Linked DNA regions of Homo sapiens. The protein of the gene in region 1 interacts with the protein of each later gene in a pairwise test. Each region holds a gene or a part of one and is shown on either strand. Other genes may lie near its edges.

What was found.
Region 2: the proteins of ZMAT1 (region 1) and QRICH1 interact in a two-hybrid assay, tested with the Homo sapiens proteins (one large-scale study listed by BioGRID).

Annotation. Positions count from the first base shown.
Region 1 is NC_000023.11:101,921,811-101,925,636, reverse strand, and holds part of ZMAT1 (zinc finger matrin-type protein 1), read left to right. Parts: intron 1-3,826.
Region 2 is NC_000003.12:49,031,872-49,035,129, reverse strand, and holds part of QRICH1 (transcriptional regulator QRICH1), read left to right. Parts: intron 1-1,901; coding exon 1,902-2,010; intron 2,011-2,356; coding exon 2,357-2,508; intron 2,509-2,856; coding exon 2,857-2,947; intron 2,948-3,258. UniProt on the Homo sapiens protein: Transcriptional regulator that acts as a mediator of the integrated stress response (ISR) through transcriptional control of protein homeostasis under conditions of ER stress.

The DNA.
Region 1 (3,826 bases):
TTAACATTCACCAAATCCTAGAATTAAAAATTACACATTGTATTTCTGTACCTTTTAGGTGAAATAAAAAACGGTCCATAGTGGTTACATAATTTGCTGAAGGCTATATAGTTGTGGGTAAAGATGGGATTTGAATCTGTTTGACCAACTCAGAATCTTATTTATTTTTTTCCAACATCCCAGTACTGTAGGTCATAGTTTTTCTCCCCATTACAAATTATTATGAAAGATTTATTTTCTTAGGTCATGAAAACATTTCTTGTAAGAGGGAAATGAAGAGGTAAAACACTCTTATTTATAGAAAATTGGAGTTTATTCATTTCTCCCACCAAATGCTGAAGCCACACTTAAATGTAATCAAATACATTACTGGAATATATGAGCTCTCTGATCAGATCCCATTTATAATTTGTCACAAAACTACCATTTCATTTCAAATAACCATCATAAATGTTATTCAGAAGTGGATTGTTTATGTCATGGTAGCAAAACAACCATCACTTGCTCATGCAGTTTCCTCTGAGCAGCAGGTTGACTCTGCAGGGCAGCTGTCCTTCATGCAGTGATTCAGATGCTTTTATCTTTTATTTTTTTCAATATTTTATTTTATGTTTTATTGTAAAATATGCACACCATAAACTTTGCCATTTTAAGTGTGAAATTCAGTGGCATTAACTACATTTACATTGCCAAGCAAGCTTCACCACTGTCCATCTCCAGAACTTTTTCATCATCCCAAATTGAAACTCTGTACGTATAGGTCATAGTTTTGTTATATGACCATATTTCTCCACTCTGAAGAACTTTCTGATGTATTTATGGAAAGTAATATATATTTAAAAGTCATGCTTAATTTGTTAACAGTTGGCAACTTGAATAGTTTCTTATTACCACAAAGCACAGCATTGCAAAGCAATTTTACCCTCTTATACCCTGAGTATAAATGGGACCATCTAGTAAACATTGGTCTTATCTTTTCCACATCTTATTATTTTTAAACCCTTACTTCATTATCAGATATAGGTTATCTTCCCATTTTGAACCTAGGTTTTGATAGTACTTTCTTATTCCCCATTGCTTTTGTTTCATGTTAAAATGGAAATAAATGATATCAGCATCAGAAATTCCTGTATATTTTAAAGATGGTATATTCCACTTCATACTTGAGAGCATGCCTTTGTGTCATTAAGATCTCAATACCAAGTTTCACTAAAGTAGGCTCCTTGGCCGGGCACGGTGGCTCACGCCTGTAATCCCAGCACTTTGGGAGGCCGAGATGAGTGGATCACCTGTGGTCAAGAGTTCGAGACCAGCCTGGCCAACATGGTGAAACCCCATCTCTACTAAAATTACAAAAATTAGCCGGGCACAGTGGTACATGCCTGTAATCCTGGCTACTTGGGAGGCTGAGGCAGGAGAATCACTTGAACTCGGGAGGCAGAGGTTGCAGTGAGCCAAGATCTCACCACTGCACTCCAGCCTGGGCAGCAGAGTGAGACTTCATCTCAAAAAACAAAAAAAAACTTGCTCCTCTATCCTTATCTCTTTTCCAAGTTTATAGTAGCATAAAAAAATTCAAATGTACCAGGGAATGAAGAACAGTTGAAAAATTCTAGGCTAGAAATATTGAAAAAATATGCCTAAAATTAACCAGGAAGTATTTACCATACCATTTTCAAAGACATGTATTTTTTCCAGATGAGACTTGAAATCATACTTCACAATATTTAGTATGTTGTCATTTGATATTCTAATGTGTAATCTGTTTATATTTTTAACCCTAGCTCTCCTAATTTCTTTCTTAATTAGATTGAAAGATAAAAGACCATCTGCCATGAATTTTGTACATTTATCATTGGGGAAAACTCAACTGTTGTACCTAAATCATAACCAAAATACTAATTTTGCAGAAAAATTTCTTTTTAACTCTAGTTGCAATTATTAAAATATTACACTTGGTAATAGAAATGCCTCATAGATCTTTACAAAGAGATATTTTGGAGAGAACCAGCTTTAGGGTTAGGACATAGACAAGAAAATAAAGATAATGGAAGATTAAGAGAAGAAATATTGGGACCCTTTGATTTTTTAGGCCCTTAAAGGTTTGTGTTAACTGTATAGCTGCTTAAAACTTTAAATCATCTTCTGTGCTTCGTATTTGGAAGCAGCTAGGTGTTTGGGTCCTCTGTAAGTACCCCACCAAAATTTTGCTTCCGTATATATTCCAATCTAAAATATATTTTTTCATTGATCACCATCAACCCATATAAAGTCAGGTAGAAACAGAAATCTGAAAGGCTGTGATATGTTCTTAGTCACACAGCTAGTTAATAGCAGGGTGAAAACTAATGCAGTCTCTCTCATCCTAATGCTTTTTACAACTCTTACTATTGGAATTAAGAATCAGTATAAACCCACACTTAACAACCAACCAATAAAAATAGATTTATTTCATATTCTAATCAGTTAAGGAAGAGAAAAGACATGGTGAGAGTATAAAGAAGAGAAGAGAGGAAGATGCCCCCAAGTTTCTTCAGCTATCCCTTGGTTCCCATTTCTACTAGAATCAGCTCCTAAGTCCCAATTCTATGCCAGAACAGTTTTATTCCTGGCAGGTAGTGAGTTCTCAGTAAGCATTAGTTCCTGTCCCAGTCATCTTCCTCACAGTCAACATTATCTGCTCACCTATCCTCTAATTGAACATCTGCTCCCTGAGGCTGGCCTTTCCTCTAAGCTGTCACCCTGAAACAGGCTGAAAGACATCTGTATTGTCACCAGTTTCCTCTCGACTTCCAGAATTGGCTATTGGTCATTTTTTTCTGGGAGTCCAAAAATCATGTCTCAAATAGTGGGGGTTGGGGGTCGGGTGGATCGAAAGAAACATTTAGCATCTCTTGTGAATCAGACATATGTTTCTTACATATGTCAAGCCTGGAGATCAAGTCTCTTTTTAAGATTAGCCTTGCCTGTAATCCCAGCACTTTGGGAGGCCAAGGCAGGCGGATCACCTGAGGTCAGAAGTTTAAGACCAGCCTGGCCAACATAATGAAATCCCGTCTCTACTAAAAATACAAAAATTAGTCGGGCATGGTGGTGCACGCCTGTAGTCCAGCTACTTGGGAGGCTGAGGCAGAAGAATCACTTGAACCCCGGAGGCAGAGGTTGCAGTGAGCCAAGATCACACCACTGCACTCCAGCCTGGATGACATAGCAAGATTCCATCTCAGGAAAAAAAAAAAAAGGCCTAGCCTTTCTAAGAGTGAGCTCAGGGAAATCTTGGGCAGACTTAGATTTGAATCCTGGCTTTGACACTTATCAACTGTGTGACTTTGGGCAAACTGTTTAACCTCTCCAAGTCTTAGGTATGACTTTTAGAAAGTGGACATCATCAAATTCATGTCAAATTTAGAGGAAATGCAACCTGAGGAGAATGTGGCAGTGTACAGTAGCCTCTGGAAAACAACACCCATTTTATAAATTTGTTCTCAGTGGAAACCCCTCTTCCATGAGCCTCCTGGTGGCAGATTCTAGAAGATCCAAAAAGATCTTGAAAGCCTGGAAATGGTTGTTTGACTCTAAGAAGGTGAAACTTAAAATAAAAAATATAAGTATATATTAGATCTGTTTGGGATCCAATAGAATTTCTATCTAACTATGTCCTAGAGGGATATATTTTAACCAGTTCTAGATCAAAAAGAACCACGTATTTAATCGAAAGTTAGCTGAGCATGAGTCAACAGTATGATATGACCACCAAAAAATGGTGAAGCTATTGTAGACTGTATTAATAGAAGATAAATACTCAAAATAAGGAGTTAAATATACT
Region 2 (3,258 bases), on another chromosome or scaffold:
TGGATCTTGGGGGCTTCAGATATGTCTAAGAGCAGAAAAGCTTTTCCCATTGCCACTGGGTCACAAAATAGCCGAAAAGTAGACAAAAAATAGAGTCAGAACTGCCTTAAAGAGATGGAAATGCACTATTAGAGAGCCAGCTTTGTTTTGGCAAGAGCATAGAACACAGAAGAGGAGTGTATCGGGCAGAATGTTCTTTTTTCTGCTTCCAGGAAGTGTCACACACTGTGCTTGCTTGGAGAATCCCGAAACCCTGCAGGAGAATACTGTTGCCTGCTCCTATCTCATTATGCACCCAGTGCACAAACATGTGCATACTGACTGACTTCAGCACATGAAGGGGCTTGGTAGTCATTCAAATGTCATCTTTCTTTGGTGCAGACCTGGCTGACCAGGGCTCTTATTCAAATTATTGACCTTTGCCTGTACCTAGCTCTGGGCTCACTTATGAACCAGGGTCTTACAGTAACACCAGCCCTGTGGGGGGGATCTTGTAATAGTTCAAATACTGGCATATTGGCTAGGCGTGGTGGTTCACGCCTGTATTTCTAACTGCTCAGGAAACTGGCAGGAGGAGTCTTTGAGTCCAAGAGCTCAAGGCTGCAGTTAGCCATGATTGTGTCACTGTACTCTAGCTTGGGTGACAGAGCGAAACCCCATCTCTTTTTTTTCCCTTTTTTTTTTTTTTGAGACAGGATCTCACTCTGTCACCCAGGCTTAAGTACAGTGGTGCGATCACGGCTCACTGCAGCCTTGACCTCCCAGGCCCAAGGAATCCTCCCACCTCAGCCTCCCTGGTAGCTGGGATCACAGATGTGCACCATCACACGACTAATTTTTTTGATTTTCAGTGGAGATGAGGTCTGGCTATGTTGCCCAGGCTGGTCTTCAACTCTTGGGCTCAAACAATTCTCCCACCTCCGCCTCCCAAAGTTCTCGGATTACAGGCGTGAGCCACCATGCCTGGTCTTCCTTTTTTAAAAAAAGATAAATATTGTAGAAGAGACCCTGTATCTTAGCTAATAATAATAATAATAATAATAATAATAAAATCCCCCAAAGAGTATCAGTCTCTTTATCTAGAGAAGAAATGACAATAGCCGTTTTTTTTGTTTTTTTTGTTTTTTTGTTTTTTTGTTTTTGAGATGGGAGTCTCGCTCTGTTGCCGAGGCTGGAGTGCAGTGGTGCAATCTCGGCTCACTGCAAGCTCCACCTTCTGGGTTCACACCATTCTCCTGTCTCAGCCTCCCGATTAGCTGGGACTACAGGAGCCCGCCACCACACCCGGCTATTTTTTGTGTTTTTAGTAGAGACGGGGTTTCACCATATTGGCCAGGATGGTCTCAATCTCCTGACCTCGTGATCCACCCGCCTCGGCCTTCCAAAGTGCTGGGATTACAGGCATCAGCCACTGCGCCTGGCCGGCCTTGCTTTTTAGAGACAGTTGAGATGAGAGAAGACTTGGTAAGGGCAAACGGGCGTGCATGCCAGTTCTTTGGGTCCTGGACCACCTTTGAAAATATGCAAAGCTCTGTACACTCTCAGAGAATTATGCATATATGCAGAGTTTGGTTTATAGTTTTCTGTACTTCACTGTCTCTGAGGGCAGTCTTTTTGCCCTGTGTTAGCCTTGGATTAGAGGGTAACAACAATCATGTAAGGCTGTGGTTCTCAAGTGTGGTGTTAGAAGTGCTCATCATCAGGTTCCACCTCAGAAACAGATTGGGACCCAGCTATCTGTGTTTTAAGAAGCTTTCCAGATGATTTTTGCCACACTTTAGGGAGAGTCCCCTGATGAAATTTATACTCCTGTGTGGTCCTTATGCTTCACACATCCCATATTGTACCTTTGAGAGACCACCTGCCATCCTCTTGTTGTGACAGTACTCTATTCCTCCTAGGCTATGTCTTGCCCAGCCACGTGACTGAGGAGATGCTATGGGAGTGCAAGCAGCTTGGGGCTCACTCCCCCTCCACCTTGCTGACCACCCTCATGTTCTTTAATACCAAGTAAGTGTTCTAGAGGCTCCACTGCTGGCATCTGTCCAGTGAAGAGTGTGGAAGCTATCCAAGAGGCCTTCTGAATTCCTCTGACATATATTTGAGAAACTGGGCTACTGAAAGCCCTAACCCCACTTGGCTGCATTTTATTTGGTAACCAGTGAGGCAAACACCCTTGCCAGACCCCTACCATCCATCTTGATGTGGTTCCTGCACTGGACACTGCTTGGGTACGGGCCTGCCCAGATCTTGGGAATGTGGGCAGTGGCTCCTCTGAAGCACCAGTGGGCAGAGGATGAGTCATGGTATCCTCCCGGCACCCCTCCCTCTGCCTTGCATTTTACTTGTGATCCAGGTACTTCCTATTGAAGACAGTGGACCAGCACATGAAGCTGGCCTTCTCCAAGGTCTTGCGACAGACAAAGAAGAACCCCTCTAATCCCAAGGATAAAAGCACGAGTATCCGGTACTTGAAGGCCCTTGGAATACACCAGACTGGCCAGAAAGGTAGGGAAAGGAGGCAGGGATGGCAAAAACAGGTGCTACTTGTCCTGCCCTGTCCTGCCCTTGTGCCTGTGAGGCTAGTGATAAGTGTAAAGGTTGGGATTTGCTGGATAAAATTCTCCACTCCCTTCTCCCCAGCCAAAAATTCCAAACTTTCCTCCTAGAAGCAGAGAAGCCCCAGACAGAATAGCTGCCTCTTCCCTTAGTAGTCACTGCCCATGCCTCATACCTTCCCTCCCCCGACCCTGTATTTCCTAGTTGGGCTGGCTGAAAGCCTAAGTTTCCTGATCTGGGCCTGAGGTAAGGCAGTCTGATGCCAGGTCTGTGGTGGTGGGGATGTGTGTTTTATAGTTACAGATGACATGTATGCAGAACAGACGGAAAATCCAGAGAATCCATTGAGATGTCCCATCAAGCTCTATGATTTCTACCTCTTCAAATGGTGAGGCTTTATTGTGACTTGCTGTCCATGTGTGCGCATGTGTGTGTATGCGTGTGCATGCTCACTTGTGTGATCACTTATCATAGGGGAGAGGCATTCTCTAGTCCCAAACCAAGTAAAAACACTTCCAGAAAGCTAAATTTAGAAGCAGCCTTGCTCTGGCTTTCCAAAGGTGTGTGATGTGCCTAGCACTGATAGAAAAAGGGGTCCCGGGTCCCTACAGTCACCTTTCATGAAAAGGGTATGAAGGTACAGAGAATCTACCTTCATCACATATTGAGCATGGCCCTGCTTCCTGACCTTGACCTTTT